Regions from separate parts of the Homo sapiens genome. Here all the other regions are linked to region 1. The links come from fine-mapping of genetic effects on gene expression. A gene starts in region 1. Each other region holds a variant in brackets. All regions are shown on one strand. Distances are between the middles of the regions. Region 1 holds the start of ASB1 (ankyrin repeat and SOCS box containing 1). Region 2 holds the start of LOC107986003 (a long non-coding RNA gene). Region 3 overlaps RBM44 (RNA binding motif protein 44).

Region 1 (6,264 bases):
AGATTTCCTCACCTCTGACTCCTCCCGCTGTGGCAGTGACCAGCACATGGTAGTTGCCTTCCACAGGTGCTGCCTGGAGAGACGCAGGCCCTGGTAGAGGATGCAGGGGCTCACTGAGCGCTGTGGCCTCCTGACACTAGTGGAGTTCTCGGTCACACCAAGGGAGGCAGCACAGCACCTGTGAGGGGGGCTGAAAGAGGGCACCCCCTTGGCAGGACTCCCAGGGCCCACACTGTCCTCTGCAGTCCCCACAGCTGGGCTTCCCGGTCCTCCCTGGGACCTCCACTGCCAGGCTAAACCACATCCAGGCAGAGGCCGACCTGGCTGGAAGAGGGAGGCTTCGAGGGCTGCAAGGAACATCACGGCCTGGGCCCTGCCCAGCCCCACCAGCCCCAAGCTGAGGGCCTGCTGGGACACTGCGTCTACCCCTGAGCCCTGCTCTGTTCCAAGCTGGGCAGAGAAGGTGGGCTCAGTTTAGGACAGGGTGGGGTGGGGTGGGAGGCTGGAGGTGGGCGTGGCTCCACTCAGCAAAGCCATGCCATAGCGTTAGCAGCCATGGCACCGATGCCCACTGTGTCCTGAGGCTCTCTCTGCCCCAGGAAGCCTGTGGCACATTCTATGGGATTTTGTGTCTTTACAAAGCCTGCAAAGTGGGTATTATCAGCCCGATTTGACAGGGAGGCAGCTGGTGCTCAGAGGAGTCACCCTGTCCTGGTGACTCAGCTGGAAGGATGTGGATCTGCCTCCCTAGCTTGGGGCAGACACCCTGACTCTCTGCAGGTGGGCTCCAAGGCCTGAGACAGGGTCTGCGGGGCAGGGGCTGGTAAAGATGTTTCCAGGGCAAAGCCTGGAGGGTCAGCGGGCTGCCCTCATCTCGTGGCCTCACCTGGTAAACCTTCAGATCCCCTGCTTCCTTCAAAGCAGGAGATCCTTCAAAGGGGAAGAGAGGGCTGGGCCTCCTGGGAGGAGACACCCCAAACACAGGCCCACAGGGCCTAGGATCAGGAGAGATTCCCATTTCTGGTCCCTGCCTGGGTGACATCTGCTGCCCAATTCCCGGAGACAGCTGTGGGGGTTAAGCGACAGCAGCACCAGCACACCCAGGCCCAGCAGGATCCTCACCAGCCTGCAGCTGTGGAGCTCATGTTTCCAGCCCCCCATATACCTGCCATGCTTCCAGAGGGGCCCCCAGTTCCCTGCAACAGGAAGGATGAGGGATGGGGGCCCCTTCTCAGACCTCCTGAACCAGAAAGTCCATTGTTGGACATTTTTGTTATAAAATGATGGTAATGAGCACTACTGTAGCTGAATCTCCCCCACATCTGATTATTTCCCTAGAATGAATGCCTGGAAGAGGCATTTCTGATCAAGGATTATTCATTCTTATGCTTTAGCTAGACTGCCAAATTTTCCACCACAAAGACTGGGCTAGGCTCCACAGAGGGGTCACTGGGGACACTTTGGGGGAGGCCTGAGCCTCCAGGAGGCAACAGGAAGCGACGGGTGATTTTAGGGGTGGGAAAACGGGAGGGAGCCACTGGGACCTGGAGGGGCAAGACAGCCCACTGCACTGGTCCTGTTGCTGCTGTGCTGGGCTGGGATGGCACTGGTAGGCACTGGTAAATCCCTGTTGCTTGTAGGTGATGGGACCCAAGTTGCTTCATCTCTAGCGGTCACTGAGTGTCCCTGTGTTGGTGGGTCTTTTGGGCTCAGAGGACCTGGAAGAAGAGGGACTCTGGAGAGGTGAGGTCAGAGGGGGAGACAGGCTGTAGGGCTGGACAGTCTGGATGTGATCCCAACTCAGCCACCTGTGGGCTATGTGGTTTTGGGCATAGCACCAGGCCCCCAGATCTCAGGGTCCTGAGAAATGGGGGTGATGGTATTGGCAGAGTGGCCAGCAATTGAGTGTCCTTCCCCCTCCAGCACTGCTGGCTCTGTGGACACTGCCCTGCACCATGTGGGCATTTAGGAGGCACGGAGGTGGGCATGTGAGGCCACCTCCCCGCTACAGACCACGTGCGGCCTCAGGTTCTTCTAAGAGGCAGGATCCCAAGGGCAACACGTGGCAGGGAAGGTGGAGGTGCAGGTGCAGGAGGGCCACTCTGCTCAGGGACTCAATACCTTGATGCAAAGGCTACCGACACGCAGAACGCTCACTGTGAGCCCACCGGGACCAGGCAGGCAGAGCAGCGGAGGCCCCCGGAGACGTGGCTCTCACCAGGCTGCACTTTAGAATCACCTGGGTGCTCTGAACCACCCAACACCCAACCCGCACCCCTGACTGACTGCACCGGAACCTCTTTTAAAAAATTCTTTAAAACAATTGTGGTAAAATATATAGAACATAAAACTTAACCTGCTTTAAATGCGCAGTTCAGTACTGTTAATGCACAATTCACATTGCTGTGTGACCCGTCTCCAAAACTTTTTCATCTTCCTCAACTGAAGCTCTGTCCCCATGAAAAACTAACTCCTCATTCCCCACTCCCCCAGCCCTTGGCAACCCCCATTCCGCTCCACCATTTCACTGCTCCAGGGACCTCAAATAATTGGAATCACACAGTACTGTATTTGTCTTTTTGTGGCTGGCTTATCTCACTCAGCATAACGTCTTCAAGGTCATCCGTGTTGTGACGTGTGTCAGGATTCCCTTCCTTTCTAAGGCTGAGTACGAATCCATTGTATGGACGGACAGCATTTCCTTTCTAAGGCTGAGTACGATTCCATTGTATGGATGGACGGCATTTCGTTTATCCATTCATCCATCCAACAACACGTGAGGCGGCTTCAGGCTTCGGAGTTGCTGAAGCTCCGAGTTCGGGATGTGCAGCTGTGGTGGAGCCAGGGGCTGGGCACACCCCTGGCTCCTGGCCTGGCAGCGTCATCATCGGAGTCACCTGTCCCTCATGCCAGTGGTGCTCTCTGCTGTCATCAAGACCAAACACCACTGTAGGAAGTACCCCCACTCCCGCCTCCAACCCCCACAGGGCCTGCCAGGTCTGCCCCCAGTGGGCCCCCTGGTGCATCTGGGCCACCCAGGGCCAGCCTCAGCAGGGGCACTCGCGGGGCTGCGCCTGCGGCTTCCCTTACTCCAGTCTGGAATGTTGTACACACGGATGAGCCAGCAGCTCACGCCCACGACTGCTGGGGTCTCCGGACTCCCTCATCAGCCTCCTGCTGTGCTGTGTACAAATCCTCCTCCTGCATGAGGCCCCGCTGTCTAACTCAGCAGGGGAGAATGGGAGGAGCCAAGGGAATCCGTGCTTTAGGACCAACACCAATACTCATGGTGGGACGACGCTGCGATATTTGAAGTTGGGAGTGTGCAAGAAATGTTACTCGGTTGTTCACGAATGCATTCATTTATTCAATGAACTTCGCGTCAGCCACTGGCTGTCATCAGTTACCGACCTGATTGAGGGCTTCATGGAAGGGATTTGGAGGAGCATTCATCTAAAACCACAGCACGCTGCGACGCTCAGCCCTGCAGTGGGCCCTCACCAGTCCCCGCGCCTCCGAATCCACCCTCCCGGGGCTGCTCGTGGCTAGCGGGGGGCACCTGCGGGGACCAAGCCAGCCCGGCCGAGGCCCGGGTCCCGCCCGCCACGGCCCTCGGGGCCCCGCCCACATCTGGCAGAAGCCACGCCCCGTCCGTGTGGGTGGGGACGGCCCGCCGGACCGAAATTCCCAGACTGCTGCCTCAGGCAACGGGCTTTCCGACTCCTTGGCTTCTTATGTGAGGAAACCACAGCGCGGCCGGCATCCAGAGAGTCGGTTAGCCGCGAAGTTCCCGCCGGACGAAGGGACCAGCCAGCGCCCTGCTAGACAGCGAGGCCGGAAGCGGAGGCGTGGCCCCTGCGCGGCCCCGGAAACCAGTGAGGCCGGCGCGCGCCCGCCGGAAGCCGCGACCCCGACGCGCCCCCCATTGCCCTCGGCGCCGGAAGTGGTCGCGGGTCGTTCTGCTTCCTGCCCGAGGGGCGTGCGCGGGTCAGGGGCGGCCGCGGAGGCGGAAGCATCCATGGCGGAGGGCGGCAGCCCAGACGGGCGGGCAGGGCCGGGCTCCGCAGGTAACGTGCGCGCGGCCACTGGGCCGCGGGGCGTGTGGGGATGGCGAAGGGCTGGCTCCGGCGTCCCTGCCGAGGTCCTGCGTCCTCGTCCCGGGCTGGCCGGGTCCACGGGGCAGCCAGGGAGCCGCACCCTGCAGGCCGGGGGTGGGGTTCAGCGCGGCTCGCAGTGCTGGGCGACCCCACCACGGACGCGCTGCCCTCTCCTCGGCCTCGAGTGCAGTCCCCGCGCTAGATTTTCTTTCCGGTGGAACTTGCTCGTAACTTCCTTCCCGTTAGCCGATACAGATTTGATATGACCCAACCGCAAAAGTAGGACGTGGGCCACCTTCCAGCTCTGAGCGCACGGATCAGGAAAGCCAGCCAGAGGGTAGCCCTAGGGAGGGCAGGCACTTTTTCACCATTCTGCCGCCCACGGCGTGTCCGGTGGTACAGCGGGGGGCAGCCTTCCCACCCACCACAGGCACAGACCAGGGACAACGGGGACGCCGTCTCCAGCGAGCTCGTCAGTGACACAACATGTCCAGGGGCCTTTGGCCCACCAGCAAGGGAGGCAGATAGAAAGGCTCACACCCACCTTCCAAAATAACTGTCCTACTTAGGGTCTCCACCTTGCAGTGTCCCTACCATGCAGATGTGAAGGAAGCGGTCAGGACAGGTTCCCGTTTCCCGGTGGTGTGGTGGGAGTTCCTTCTTGCTGGATTTCTGAGCTTGCCATTCGCGCCAATAGTTTCGTGTGTTCTGGGCTTTCTTTACATGCCTATATTTGTCTTTGGAGGGGTTCCTCTCCTACTTAGTAATAAACCAATACATTTCTTAAACATCTTAAAAGATTGACTTGGAGACTGGTGCAGATAGGCTTTTCCATCCATCCCTCCCTCTGCACCTCCTTCCAATCATTTAACAGACTTGTATTGAAGACCTGCTGTTGGCTAGACCCAGCAGAGGATACTGCAGTGACCAGAAAAAGCCAGACAAAGCATCTACCATCCTGGGCTTTGGTTGGCGTTGACTTTGACTTCAGAGACAGCCAGGACCTTAGGGTCTAGGATGTCATCTCATGTGAGAGTGAGAGACGGAATGATGCGTGTTCCGTGGGAAAAAGAGGACCAACAGCTACTTCCCAGTATAAAGAGAGTTCCTGGGGAATAAACACTGGCTTTGTCGGCTGCACAGGTCTCCTTTTTTTTTGAGACGGAGTTTCGCTCTTGTTGCCCAGGGTGGAGTGCAGTGGCGTGATCTCGGCCCACTGCAGCCTCCGCCTCGGGGGTTCAAGCGATGCTCTGGCCTCAGCCTCCCTAGTAGCTGGGATTACAGGTGCTGGCATCATGCCCGGCTAATTTTTGTATTTTAGTAGAGACGGGGCTTCACCATATTGGCATATTGGCCAGGCTGATAGCGAACTCTAGACCTCAGGTGATCTGCCCGCCTCTGCCTCCCAAAGTGCTGGGATTACAGGCGGCAGCCACCACACTCAGCTGAGGGCTCCTTTTTATATCCTCATGCACTGCTGTTTTGTTATTCAGTGTGTTTCGGCCTCGGGTAGAGGGGCAACAGATTTTCAGTTGAAGCTTAAGTGCTATCCTGGGGCAGTTGTGTTGTCATTGGAGTAGTTGATCAGCGAAACACAAACTTGAAGTTGCTTTTGAATCTGGAGCTGGGGAAAGATTCTGAGTCTACTTTGAGCAGGGCCAGGAATGGATAGCACAGAGGCCAGCAGAGGGGGCCCAGAAGAGGGCTCAGCAAAAGTCCTGTGGCCGCCATTTACCTGTTGGTTATTGCCCTACACCTGAATCTTTCCCACTCCGACTTTGAACTTTTTCACTCTGTAGTAACCGCAACTGTGGAGTAATTACAGGGGAGGATAGTTACTGAAGGAAGACTGGGGTGGTGGCTTAAAGAGCTGTTCATGCCGGCTTGTTGATCTGCGGCGAGTCTGGTTGTGGGATCAGCATGAGCAACTCAGTGGACTGTCAAACCCTGCAGAGCCGGGACACTTACTCATCACCCCCGTTTCACCTGTGGTTGAGTCTCATGTACAGTAGTACTGAAAAGAGATTAATTTTAATATAAAAAACAATGTCAGCATCTGGAAAGAGCCCCCTTATGGAGGGGGTGCTTTATACCTGCCTGTCTGGTCTCACACTAGGACAGCATGGCAGAGCAGGGACTTGAATCCAAGTGGTCTGAGTTTTTGCTC
Region 2 (7,238 bases), 36 kb after region 1:
GGTAAGACTTGCTGGGGCCACGTAGGAGTCATAGTGCAGGAATACTAGGTCTGAATAGTTGGGAGTGGGGGAGACTGCAGCAAACCTAGGGGAGGTGCCCCTTCTAACCGGGCATTCACACATGTTCAGTAGCTGCTCTGTGAGATGACAGTGCACAGAAATGCTGAGGACCTCCAGACCTGTGTCCCACAGCCACTCTCATGGGCGGAGCGAATAATCGAAAGCAGCCTAGTCCAGGGTGGAGAAGTTCACTGGGTTGCCCTGGGCCAGGGCTTCATGTTTGGTAGGGTGAAGCTGTGGGCAGGAAATTACTTGCTGGGATGCCAAAGAAATTTGCGGGACAGCTGCTTGCAGGGCATGCTTTTGGACTTGCTGGGAAGCTGGAGCAGGCTGGGCTCCCGGGGAATGCTGGGCGGCTGCCTGTGGGGCAGCTGAACTTTTTGGGAGGCCTGGGACAGCCGCAGAACTCAGCCAGGATGCTCCGTGTTGGGTGCTGCTGAAACCTGCTGGAGGTAAACTCCACTGGCGTCCCACATACCCGCGAGTGCCAAGGGAGTCGGAAGGAAGGAAAGCACAGTGGAACTAGGAAGAGAAACCCCTTCCTCTTACCAGTGTCCCTCCAGAGCCGCCCACTGACAGGCTCATCAGCCCTGTGCCAGCTGGCAAGGAAGGTGTGCTCCTGGATCCCGGCAGAGCACTGGGGAATGATCTGCAGGCTGGAGGAGGAGGCGTGTCATGTGCTTGAAGCAGTGTTGCAGGCTTCTTCCTCAGGGGACCCAGCCTTACTTTCAAGAATCTTGGCCTGTGAATTGAGCTAGGTCTGGGAACTGGGAGAGAGGCTGTTGCTATCCACAGCTGTGACTCAAGTCAGATTTTTGGCTCCCAGACCTAAGGTTTTCTGCTTTATTCCGTCAGTCAGTCCTCTTGTATTCCTAGGGATACCATGTTCAATTAGCCACTGGCAAAGAGCCCTGCGGACCAGGGTGTTTTGATCCCCAGCGTGTGTCTGCTCCCTCCCTTGGCAGACGCAGCCGCCTGGTCTTTGCTGGTCAAGTCCTGGCATTTGGCCTCTGCTCCTTTGGAACCCTATCATCCCCATTGAAATCAGAGAGCCCAGCTCAGTGGCAGTGTCCCTGCCATCGCACCTGCCTGCCAAAGAGAGCAGTTGCAAAGCTTCTCAGGGATGCAGGTGCTCCCAGGCATTTCTCAGTGCCCAAGTGAAAGTGAGAGTGCTTTGGAGCCTTCTTGCAGTGTGTAGTTGAGAGAGAGGTGTGCGGGTCACACATGTTAAACCCAGTCCAATGGTCCCATCTCCCTACGCCTCTGGAATCCCTCCTCCATGCTGGGAAAGCTCTAGCATCTCAACCTTGTTAAGTGTAGGTCATTTCTGAGTTCAAGTTTCAGTCAAACAATCAAATAAGCAGTTAGAGCCATGTGGCTTGTTCCTGGGGCGTGCCTCATTGATGGATCCAGTACGTGGAGTGGTGTGAACCTTCTGCTTCAAGGCGAGAGACCACAATTGGTGGTGATGTCAGGTAATGGGATTTTTTTTTTTTTTTTGAGACAGGGTCTGTCTCTGTCACCCAGGTTGGAGTGCAGTGGCGCAATCTCAGCTCACTGCAGCCTCTGCCTCCCGGATTCAAGTGATACTCAGTCTCCTGAGTAGCTGGGATTACAGACGTGAGCCACCATGCCTGGCCAATTTTTGTATTTTTAGTAGAGATGAGGTTTTATCATGTTGGCCAGGCTGGTCTCAAACTCCTGGCCTCAAGTGATCCACCTGCCTTAGCCTCCCAAAGTGCTGGGATTACAGGTGTGAGCCACCATGCCTGGCTAGTACCAGGATTTCTTACAAGGGCTCTTTCTAACCCACTGCCTTTTGTTGGAGAAATTGATGTTATTGGCATATTTTAAAAATCATGTCCAAATGCAGCTACAGAACATGAAGAAAATATTTTCTAGAGTGAAATGCTTCAAAGAGTGAACAAGGAATCCATCTGCTGCCATTCCCCCAATCCGCTCTGTCCCAGTCTCCAGGCTGCGAGGGGGGCCAGTGTGGTGTCTGATGACGCTGTAAGTCATCCTCAGGGACAGCTCCAAAGGTTTAGCATCACGTTTGATCCAAATGTTCAGAACGTCTCACAGATGGGTGTCATTTCTGAAAACCTGTAACTGTAGGCTAAAATTTTCTGATTTAGTTTAAAAAAGGAATAAAAAAGAATAAGCAAAGAAACTGCCTGGAAGTGAGACCTGTGCTTTAGCTGGACTTAGCCATCACTGAACCAGACACAGATGCTTTGGTGAAGGGTGCAAAAAGGTCATCCCTTCATCCCTCTCAGAAATGAAAGTGAGGTAGTTGACAATAATGAAAAAACGTTTTATTTATTAAAATGGGTGATCATTAAAAATGTCTATTTAAAATGAGAAGTCTGTGTTTGTGAATGCTGAAAGCTGAGGAATATTACCATTGGTCAGTGGTTCTTAATTCTGGCTGCACAGTGCCTGAGGTGTGTTAAAAAGCTCCCGATGCCTGGGCATTGTCTGGATCAACTGTGTGTTAGTTTCCTATTGTTACTAACAGATGACACAAGCTTTGTGGCTTAAAACAAGACAGATTTGTTATCTTACAGTTCTATAGGTCAGAAGCCCCACATGAGCCTCACTGGGCCAAAATCAAGATGTGGGCAGAGCTGTGTGTTTCCTGGAAATGCCAGGGAGACTCCATTTCTTTGCCTTCTCCAGCTTCTAGAGTCTGCCCACATTTTTGCCTTGTAGCCCCCTCCTCCATCTTCACAGCCAGCAACAAAGTCCTGGCTGGGGGTCCTCCCCACACCACATCACTCTGAGCTCCACTCTGCTGCCCTCCTACACTTTTTAGGACCCTGTGATGACACTGGGCCAACCAGATCATCCAGGATGATCTCCCTCTCTTAAGGGCAACTGAATAGCCACACTAATTCCATCGGCAACCCCAGTTAGAGCAGCATATTCACAGCTTCTGTGAACTAGGATGTGGCCATCCCCGGGAGCCTCTTACCTGCTGACCACAGCCGTAAAATCGGAATTTCTGGGAGTTGAGCTTGAGCCTCAATAGTTTTAGAAACCCTCCCAGTGGATTCTAATATGAGGCCATTTAACTAGGACTGGTTATGGGGAACAGCTGGAGGGTTTCAAGAAAGGAAGTAATGCAGCCCAATCTGTATTTTAGAAATACTGCTCCAGTTACACTGTCAGGGGTGGGCTGGTGGGGGAGGGAGGACTGTGATGGGACTTGAGTCAGTGGACAAGCGACAGCTGTGGGGATCAAGGCAGTCTTGGTTTTGCTAGCCATTCCTCAAAAGGATCAATGTCCACTACGTGAGTACTGCCCTGGGGTATGGGAGATACACAAATATTTTGAGGAGTCTTGGACAAGACCGAGCCACAGTACGAGACACCCAGTACAGCACCTCCCACCCGCAGAGGTGTTTT[G/T]TTTTTTTTTTTTTTTTTTGAGTCAGGGTGTTACTCTGCCACCCAGGCTGGAATGCAGTGGCACGATCATAGCTCACTGCAGCCTTGAACTTCTGGGCTCAAACGATCCTCCTGCTTCAGCTTCCCGGAAAGCTAGGACTGTAGTTGCTCACCACCACATCTGGCTAATTTTTAATTTTTTTGTTTTTGGTGGAGACAGGGTCTTACTATGTTGTTCAGGCTCGTCTCAAACTCCTGGCCTTAAGTGATCTTCCTGCCTTGGCCTCCCAAAGCGCTGGGATTACAGGTGTCAGCCACCATGCCTGGACCTCCTCCAGAGTTCTTGAGCAAGGCCATGCCATTGGTGGCAGCGAATTACATGCCTTTGTGGAGATACAATCACACACCATAAAGTTCACCATTTTAAAGTATGCTACTTTAAAGTGTAACAGTTTTTAGCGTATCCACAAAGTTGTGCGCTGATCACCACTGTCTAATTCCAGAACATTTCCATCACCCCCAACAAAAAACTTCATATCTATTCGCACTCACACCCCAGTTCTGTCCCTGCCAGGGCCCGGCTACAATTAATTTGCTTTCAGTGTTTATGGATTTATCTATCCCATTTATACTTATGTAAATGGAACCATATAATATGTGGCCTTTTGTGAGTGGCTTCTTTCACTTAGCATGATGTTTTTAAGGTTTGCCTATGTTGTAGCATGTGTCAGAATTTCCTTCCTTTTCATGGCCAAATAGTATTCTACTCTGTGGATGCACCACATTTTGTTTATCCATTTATCAGTCCATGGACATTTGGGTTGTTTCTATTTTTTGGCTATTGCAAATAAGGCTGCTATGAACATTTGGGTACAAAGTTTTATATAGATACATGTTTTCAGTTTTCTTCAGTATATACCTGGGAATGGAATTGCTGGGTCATATATTAACTCAATATTTAATTTTTGAGGAACTGCTGAACTGGTTTTCTCAGTGGCTGAACTATTTTACATTCCCACTGTCAATGCACAAGGGTTTTGATTGCCCTACATTCTTGCTAACACTTGTTATTGTCTGTCTTTTTGATTTTACTCCCCCTAGTGGGGATGAATTGGTATCTCACTGTGGTTTTGATTTGCATTTCCCTAGTGAGTGATACTACCACACATCTTTTCATGTGCTCTTTGGCTGTTTACATATGTCCTTTGAGAAATGTATGTTTAGATCCTTTGCACGTTTTAAAATTGAGTTGTCTTTTTATTGTTACTTAGAAGAGGTCTTTATATATTTTGGATATGATTCTCTTATCAGATATTTGATTTGCAAATATTTTCTCCCATTCTGTAGGTTTTCTTTTAACTTTCTTCATGATGTTCTTTGAAGCACAAAGGCATTTAATTTTGAAGAAGTCCAACTTATCTATTTTTCATTTTTACTTGTGCTTTTGATGTCAGATCTAAGAATCCATTGCTCGATCCAAGATCATGAAGGTTTACTCCCATGCTTTCTTCCAAGTCTTATAGTCTCTTAGTTGTTACATTTTATGTCTTTGATCCACTCTGAATTAATGTGTACATATGGTGTAAGGTAGGGGGCCTAACTTCATTCTTTTGTATGTAGATATCCAGTTTTCCCAGCAATTATTTTTGTTGAATAGTCTATTCTTTCCTCTATTGAGTTGTCTTGGTGCCCTTGTCAAAAATCAGTTGACCATGGCTGGGTGTGGTGGCTCACACCTGTAATTCCAGCACTTTGGGAGGCCAAGCCAGGTGGATCACCTGAGGTCAGGAGTTTGAGATCAGCCTGGCTAACATGGTGAAACCCCATCTCTACTAAAAATACAAATTAGCTGGGGGTGGTGATGGGTGCCTATAATCCCAGCTACTCGGGAGGCTGAGGCAGGAGAATTGCTTGAACCCAGGAGGTGGAGGTTGTAGTGAGCCAAGAGTGCACTACTGCACTCCAGCCTGGGGGACAGAGGGACACTCCATTTCAAAAAAAAAAAAAAAAAAAAAGGAAAATCAATTGACCATTAATATAAGGTTTTATTTTGGACTCTCAATTCTATTGATGTATTTCTAACCTTATGGCAATACAATACTGTCTTGATTACTGTTGTTTTGTAATAAGTTTTGAAATCATGAAGTATGAGTACTGCAAGTTTGTTGTTTTTCAAGATCATTTTGGCTATTCTGGGTTTCTTACATTTCCATATGAATTTTAGGATCAGCTTGTCAATTTCTTCAAAAAAAGGCAGCTGGGGTTTTTATAGTAATTGTGTTGAATCCATTGAGTATTAGGGGGAATATTTCCATCTTAACAATATTAAGTCTAATAATTCATTATCCCAAGATATCTTCCAATTTATTTAGGTCTTCTTTGATTTCTTTCAGTAATGTTTTATAGTTTTGGGGGTGCATGTCTTGCTCTTTTTTGTTAAATTTATTTCTAAGTATTTTATTCCTTTTAGTGCTATTGTAAATGGGATTGTTTTCTTAATTTCATTTCAATATGGGAAGCATAACACAGTGCTTGCCTGGTAGGGTTGTTAGGACAGCTGGATGGGCCAGCAGGCAGGCACCTTACGATGCCTGTCTTTTGAGAGATGCTCAGTGAGCACTGGCTGTCATGGCTCCTCCACCTCTCTTCCCGCTCCCCGCCACACCCAGGACCCTGAATGAGGGTGGTGCTGTGGCATCCTAGTTAGAGCTTGAGGCTTCAGAGCCAGCGGGGCTAAGATTATGGTGCTAATATGCCCTAGCTGGGGGGCCTTGGGAGCGTTTTATAGCTGACTGAGCTTCTGTTTCCTCATTTGCAAAGTGGGGCTGCCAATGCGATGTCGTTTGTGGGATGTTGTGAGGGATAAACGACGCAATGCAGCTCAGACACGGAGCATCATGTCTGGCCCACGCTTCACTGCATCCGGGATACCAGTGTTGATAAATGACATCACTGACTATGCCAATCACAGTTGACACCGCCATCGCTGGTGTGACGCACCCTGGCATCAGAGGTGGTAAAATGTGGACCCCATGTCTCTTGGCATTGCAGAAATGCAGGATTTCTATCATGCAGTTGCCTCTTCCACACAGTGCATGGCCTGGACAATCCCAGCAGGCTTTTCCTATGTGACTCACTTTCATGTACATTTAAAAAAATTAGGAAAGAAGCTTTCTGTGACCCCCAGGTACTCCAGCTTCTGTTGGTGGAAGTCAGGAGATGTTACAGGCCTAACGGAATCAAGGCCTCAGGTATTTAAGCTATTCTTTGTTTCCTACAGGAAAGAGAACTTTATACACAAGGTGGGTCCCCTGAAGATTAGATTATCAGTTGGAAACCTGAGTTCCAATGTATTCCCACTGTTGGATCTCTGAATGCTGTGCTTTTGACCGGGGTCTCCTGGGCCCCATATTCTAATGGTCAGTTTCAGGTTCCTCTTCTTTCACCTCTGCCTGTGGAGGCAGGAGGCATGCAGTGATCATCACCCTCCTTCTTCCAGTGTTTTCAGTCTCTGCTCTCCAGGGACCAGTCTTCTGCATATCATGTCTCCTGGTTCCATCACAGCCATGTGAAAGCACAGTCACCCTGGAGAGGAACAGAAGGCAGAGTCAGCCCCTACCTGTCTTACGTGCGCCAGGGAAGAACGGACTCATGGCCCTTCTGAGACTTCAACCTGAGGGTCGGTGAATGTCAGAACAGCAGCAACAGCGAGGGCTGACTCCGGCTTTGACCTTCAGACCCTGAGCAGCCAGTGGAGTCTAGCTCAGTCTCGGCTTTCACTGTGGACA
Region 3 (7,238 bases), 610 kb before region 1:
TTTCCCCTTAATACTAGGTTTCCAGTTGCCCAGACAGGAGTGCAGTGGCATGATCATAGCTCACTGAGCCTCAACCTCCCAGGCTCAAGTGATCGTCTCACCCCAACCTCCTGAGTAGCTGGGACTACAGGGGCAAGCCACCATGCCTGGCTAATTTTTTAATTTTTTGTGGAGTCGGGGTTTTGCCATGTTACCCAGGCTGGTCCCAAACTTCCTGGGCTCAAGTAATCTGCCCACCTTGGCCTCCAAAAGTGCTAGTGTTACAGGCATGAGCCACCGTGCCCAGCTACCATTTCTCTTTGCTCCATGGTTTGATAGGAATTGATATAAGATGTATCTTTGATGGCCTTTTCATTTTTTTTCATGGTTGATAATGCTGTTCACCTGCTTCTGAGTCTTTAAAAAAAAAAAACTTTTCCTAGAAAATTGCCTATTTTTGTTAAATTTTAAAATTATCCTTCAGTGGCATACATGGCATTCTCAATTTTTAAAAGTACCTCTTTATTGCTTGCTAAAATGCTCCTTTTCTCAATGCTCATTTTTGTTTCAGTCTTCTCTTAACGAGATTTGTCTTGTCTTTTATCTACTTTTTCTTTGGAGTCTCGCGCTGTCACCCAGGCTGGAGTGCATTAGTGCAATCTCAGCTCACTGCAACCTCCATCTGCCGGGTTCAAGTAATTCTCGTGCCTCAGCCTCCCAAGTAGTTGGGACTACAGGCACATGCCACCACACCCAGCTAATTGTTTGTATTTTTAGTAGAGACAAGGTCTCACCACGTTACCCAGCCTAGTCTCGAACTCCTGAGCTCATGCAATCCACCCACCTCAGCCTCCCAGAGTGCTAGGATTACAGGCGTGAGCCACTGCGCCCAGCCTGTTATTTACCTACTTTTATTAGTCTTTTAAAAGAATAGCTCTCCATTTTAGTTACCATTTTTACTATTTTTAAAGTGATCACTTCTGTTTTTGTCTTAACTAATTACATTTTAAACTTTTTTGGCTTATTTTTAGTTCTTTCCTAGATTCTTGAGAGTTGACTGTTTAATTCATTTATTTCTAGCTTTATTTAATAATAAGCATCTAAAGCTGTGACTTCTTTTGGATGTAACTTTGACCATGTCCCGTAGATTTTGGTAGTCTGTATTCTTATTGTCATTAATTTATTTTAATTATCAAAGTCCACATAGCTTACTAAGTGGCAAAGTCAGGATTCAAGGCTGTCTCCATGACATGAGATCTGCTTTTTAATATCTTCTCCTTGTAGAACAGAGACAGTACATTTAGATGATTTTTTTCAGGATCAGTGATTGAAATAATTCAGAGTTAAAACAAAATGAATTCCTTTTTTTTCCCCAAATTCATCAGGAACCTTTGTAACACTTGATTAACAGAATTCTGCTGTAGATACCTCAGCTTTTAGGGGTATGGAGAGTGACAATAAGTAGGGGACAGAGGCTCAAAATGATTTTGTGAGTTGGCTGGACTTCCTTCTGCTTGTCGCCTCTGGGATCATTTCATGTGTCCATTGGGATATTCTACCAGTAATTAGCTTGGGCTGCTTCATGTGGCAGCTGGGTTCAGAGTCATTATATGGATATCCCGATTACCCTGAGTTGATTTTATGAATGTACCAAATTCTTGCATGTACCCCCAAAATATGTACATCTAATATGTATTAATAAAAAGTCATCATTATTACCTTTTTAAAACAGTTTTGTTGAGTTATATTTTACTCATTTCAGTGATTTTTAGTAACCTTATCAAGTGTCACAACCATCCCATCATAAACCTGTCTTAGAACATTTTTATCCCCCATGCCCATTTATAGCTAATCTCTCTTCCCATCTCCCACAACCTATCCCAGGCAGCTACTAATATACTTTCTCTATATACATTTTCTTGCTTTGGACGTTTTACTTAAATGGAATTATGCAATAGGTGATCTTTTTTATCTAGCTTCTTTCATTCAGCAAGTTTTTGATATTAACCCATGAGGTAACATATATCAATAGTTTATTTCTTTCTGTTGCTGAAAGATTTTCCATTGTATGGATTTGCCAAGTCATTGGTTTTTAGTAAGTGTACAAATTGTCTTGGAAACTTTTTATCTAGGTTCGACATAAATAGGGTGATATTATGGTCTTTAAGACTCAATTTTTTAGATTTAAACTTCTTTTAGTGACCTAATGCATTGGTTTTTTAAAAAATGTTCCTTGGAAATTTTAAAAGGACATATCTTTCTGTCCTTTATGTAGTTGTCAATTTATGCTTTTTAAGTATAATAATAGTTCAATATTTATACCTTTTCTAGATTATATATCTTTGAATGATGCAGGCCACTGCAGTGGTGGAGACAGCATCTGGTAAAGGCTACCACAGTAATGGAGGCAACCTCCAAAAAGGTAAGGGTCTAGTCCACTTACCCTTATTCTTGGTGGGGAAGGGTGTTAAATGTATTGTGCCAGACAGTTTGCCCTTCAGGTTGCTGCTTTTTAACTCTTCCTCCCTCTAAGGTGGTAAGACTCAGTATATTTTTAACTTGCCAAATTGACTCAGGTGATTTTTGGTGGATCAGGGCAGTCTAGGCAGGACCTTTCTTTAGGAAAGGGAAAGTGAGCAGGAAGAAAGGATTTCTGTCCAGCCAGCCTTTCAAGAACTGCTGACAGGTATAACTGCCTTCAGGGTGATAATCAGAAAGTGAGCAGGTTGACTTCTGCTGCCCAAGTTGTATATGTTTTCTTCTTCCCATAAATCTGAAATGTATTTTTCCTGGGTCATGGCAGCAAGAAAATAAGAAATAGCAAGAGTCTAAAAAGCAAGATGACTAAACTTTATGTGCTTATGACTGTATGTAGCTTAAACTATTAAGATATATATATTCTAGATTAAAACAAAAACTCTACATTGTTCATGAGACATATTTAAAACAGAAAAGAAAGGTTTAGGATAAAAGGATGGACAAGTTAAACAAATTAACTTAAAAATTTGGGGTGATAGTAGTAAAGAGCATAATCAATGCAGAAAGCATTGTAAGACGATTAAGAGGGTCATTTTAAAGTGATAAAGTTATACAATGAAGATGTCATTCATGAACCCTAATGGAATAAACAGTATACTTTGTATTCATACATTAAATGTTGGAAATCTAGGGAAAGGCTACTGGAGATTGGACATGATAATGGTTCTCTATCTCAGTAAATCCCAATAGGGTATTTTATGCAATTCAAAATGGTCCCCCAAAAATAAACTTAAAAAAATCTATTGAAGAGAAGGTAAAATAAATTTTAAAATACAGGAAAAAACTTACCAGATATAAAAATAACCTGTGATACTATAATAATTAAAACAGTAATACAGTCATACAAAAAGATAATAGGTTA[G/A]TGGAGTGGAATAAATAGAAATAAATTCTTAGAAAATCATGAAACAGAAACAGGAAGACTTCAGAATATGATAAAGATGTTGTTTCAGCTCAGAAGGAAAACAATGGATTATTTGGCAAATGGTATTACGACAATTGACCATCCATTTTGGAAGAAAGTTAAGTTAGAGTTCTACCTTATGCTAAAGAGGAAAATAATACTCTGTGTAGTGTAAAAAGACTAAGTGTTAACCCCCACCCCCCCCTACACACACAATTAGAATAAATTATAGGAGAATATTTTTATAATTACTTGGTAGAGAAGACCAAAGACACAAAACCTAGAAGTTACAGAAGACTGATGCACTTAACTAAATAACCTGGAAAATTCTGATATGACAAGATACTATAAAAAGTTAAAGCCAGGCAAGCTACTTGGGTGGCTGAGGCAGGAAGATTGCTTGATGCAAGTCTAGCACCCAGGCAACATAGCAAGACCCTGTCTCTTAAAATAATTTTTAAAAATTAAAAGATAAGCAATAAGCTAGGAAAATTCAGTTATATTACAAATGTTAAAAAGAAAACAAAGAATTAGTATCTAGAATATATAAAAGACTCCTAAACAACTCTGTCGTCTCCAACCACATATTTATAACAGCTTACTGGACAGACATTCACATCTGGGTGTTTTATTACTAACCTCAAACTCTACTTGCCCAGAATTGAACTCATTATCCTCATCGTCCTCCTCATTTTTCCCTTCTACCTTCTAATCTGCTCTTCACACAGTCCCTATCTCTTTAGCCCTGAATATTCCCATTCAACTATAGTACCAAGTTGTAAACATGTAAGCATTATCTTTGAGTGATATTTAAGTGAGTATTTATTGGCCAATTGGTAAGTCATAACATCAGTTTAGCTGATTGTGATGAATTTTTTTTAAAGAAATGGAATAGAATAAAATAGAAAATACAAGAATACATTGGACATGGGTAAAATTTTTGTTTTACTTATACACATACATATATGTATGTGTGTACTGGGTCATGATATGACCAAAATGTAATTCCGATTATGATCTTAGTAAAAAAAAATCTTTTGAAAACCACTGCTCTCTCTCTTCCTCTTACTATCATCTCTAATTGGCCACCAAGACATGTCAGTTGTGGAACTTTCATACCAGTCTCTTCTTTAGTCCCACCTCTGTTTTGGTACCTGCCTTTTTTCTCCTCTTTCAAGTTTTTAATCTTTCTGTTGCCAGGAATGACTACAACTCAATTCCAGTCACATGACTACCCTTTAATGAAGTTTTCAGTGGTTTTTGGTTGCCTTAGAATAAGAGCCAAACTTCTTAGCACATCATAAAGGGCCTTTTTCAGTTGATAATTCCTGTCATACTCGTAAGAGTTCTTTCACTACAGACAAGTCTTAAAATTTCCTGAAAATGCCATGTTCTTTCACACGGCTAATTGTACTTGCGTTGGATTTGCCTAAAATAATTTTGTCTATTTTGTTTCAAAACACTTTTTAAATACAAAGTTTTTCTGAAGTCTGCTTCCCTTTTTTTCAAAAATTTACCTGCTCCATCAACACAACTCTGTCAGCACTGTGTTAAAATTACATTTTTGTGTGCTTACCTTATGACCCTATGAAAACTATAAGCACTTGGGGACAGCATCCGTGTCTTCTTTTTCTTTGTTTTTACAGTGCCTAGAGCTAGCACTGGAGGCGCCCAAAGATTTATTAAATAAATTTATAAGAAAAAAGTTTCTTATTAGACCATTTTACAAACAGTGGCTGCCCTGTAAACAGTAAATTTCTTCCCATCGAAAGAATTCAAGAAAATCTTAGCTGTTGTCTTAGGTCAGGCTGCCATAACAAAATACCATATAGTGAGTGGCTTAAACAACAGGTGCTTATTTTCTCATAGTTTTGGAGGCTGGAAGTCTGAGATCAAGGTGCCAGCATGGTCAGGTTCTGGTGAGGGGTCTCTTCCTAGCTTGTAGATGGCTGCCTTCTTGCTGTGTCCTCACATGAGAGAAGGGGGAGGCAAGCTCTTTTGGTCTTTTCTTGAAAGGACACTAATCCTATAATTAGGGTCTTGCCCTCATGACCTCATGTAAACCTAATTACCTCTCCAAGTCCCCATTTCCAACATATGGGTCTGGCCTTCAAGGCATCATTTGGGAGGACATGGTTCAGTTTTTAGCTGCTACTGAAAGGGATATTTTTCATGGATGATGTAAATTGTAATCCCGCATTGGGAAGAGCTTAAACCAGATCATGTCTAAGGTTTTTCTAGTGTCTAGATTCTGTAATGTTGCTGTTAATGTTTTTATCCTTTTTTTAATCAGATAAACCTTCAAATCCAAAGAAAGAAAATTTGTTATTATCCTCCAATGGTTGTGATGAAGTCAAATTGACTTTTCCTGATGATGACTGGAATTCTTCGACACTAGAGCAAAGAGCTAATAATAAAGAAATCAGCAATATTGACAAAATGGATTTATTAGAGCCATTTTTTTCAGTGAGTCAAGATACTAACACAGAGAGTACTCAGTTTCAGTCAAGTGAACTTGAAGACAGTACTGACTATGCTTTCTTGAATAAAACATATTCTATACCTTATTCAGAGTCAAAACTAAAGAAGGAAAGTCTTACTCCTTTAAGTTCAGAATTAGATCCTGAAGTGCAGAAAAAAGAGGAGGTTTTTTTTAATATTTTGGAACATCAAGATAAGACTGTTGGCTTGGAAAGAATCTACAATATTTCAGATGCTAATTATAGAGAAAGTGCTGAAGATACACAAAAGCATGATACAGATGAAGACTCACAGCAGGAATATCACAGTGCAGAAGAACAAGAATACATAAGTAACCATTTATCTTTTGACCAAACAAAAGCATTAGATATATCTAATCCAGAAGTTGTTGAATTAGGAAATTCGGGTTATGAAGTTAAATGTGCTAGCAATGTAGAAGATAATCGTGTTAACTCGGGAAGTGGTTCTATCATCTCTTTCGATTCACTTGATGTTTATGGACAAGAAGAGTCACTTCATGTCTCCAAATTTCAGAATTCTGTTATGTTAAGAGAATATCATGACCTAAAGCATGAAAAGTATAAGGAACAAGAGACTAATTCAATGTACCACACTGTATTTGATGGCAGTGTACTAAGAAGCAATTCTCCAGGAAACCAGGAATCTCAATCTAAGAGTGGTTCCTTGAGCCCTCAAAAAGTATTAAAAATGAAAATTTATACTGAAAACATGAAATCTCAAATAAATGAAGGTAAAGATTTTTGTGGAAATAAAATTGTTGAGAACAAAATATTACTGCACCTTGAAAATCCTAGCACATTACCACAGGATAAAGCTTTAGAGACATTACTCCAACCCTGTAAAGATTGTCAAACTTCCTGGACCTCTGTTTTTGATGATTCGATAATTTCTGCCTGTGGATATTATGAAAGCCTACAAAACACTGCTGACTCAGCCTTAGATTTTTCTGCTATGCTACCAAAGATCGCAGTCAGAGATAATCAGGCAATAGAAGATAATACGTCCCTAAAAGTTGCTCATAGCAGTACCACAAAGAAAACATGCTTTCACAATATAGGAGAAATGTGTACTAAATCATTGACAGATGCAGCAAGTTGTACAGTCACAATTAATCAGACAGTGGACGTTAGCACTGATTTTAGGGCTTGTTTCACAACCAGCAGGGCAACAAGTGCAAGACCTTCTGTAGTATCTACATCAAGCAACACAGAGATAACAATGATGAATAAAAAACGACCTGATGAATGGCAAAATGAGAAACAAAAAAGTGTGGCTTGTAGTACAGATTGGTCATACAGTGAAGATTGTATAGATACAC

Evidence for each region. PIP is the estimated chance that this variant, and not a neighbour inherited with it, causes the effect.
Region 2: its variant is the best candidate, but not a certain one, in a credible set for the expression of ASB1 in whole blood (INTERVAL, PIP 0.88).
Region 3: its variant is the best candidate, but not a certain one, in a credible set for the expression of ASB1 in fibroblasts (GTEx, PIP 0.83).

The regions. Positions count from the first base shown.
Region 1 is chr2:238,423,053-238,429,316 of GRCh38, forward strand. It overlaps ASB1 (ankyrin repeat and SOCS box containing 1), which reads left to right and starts at 3,875. Exons shown (of 5, transcript NM_001040445.3): 1 at 3,875-4,067. The coding sequence starts at 4,019. LOC124908002 (a long non-coding RNA gene) reads right to left here and starts at 3,842. Exons shown (of 2, transcript XR_007088163.1): 1 at 1-3,842. RefSeq lists enhancers at 2,456-2,991, 4,504-4,623 and silencers at 3,324-3,713, 3,734-4,253.
Region 2 is chr2:238,458,449-238,465,686 of GRCh38, forward strand. It overlaps LOC107986003 (a long non-coding RNA gene), which reads right to left and starts at 2,415. Exons shown (of 2, transcript XR_001739969.2): 1 at 1-2,415. The variant G/T (reference allele first, on the strand shown) is at 3,472.
Region 3 is chr2:237,811,282-237,818,519 of GRCh38, forward strand. It overlaps RBM44 (RNA binding motif protein 44), which reads left to right. Exons shown (of 16, transcript NM_001080504.3): 2 at 2,311-2,401; 3 at 5,712-7,238. The coding sequence starts at 2,329. Among named protein-coding and RNA genes, the nearest start is that of RBM44, 16 kb to the left of the region's middle. The variant G/A (reference allele first, on the strand shown) is at 3,380.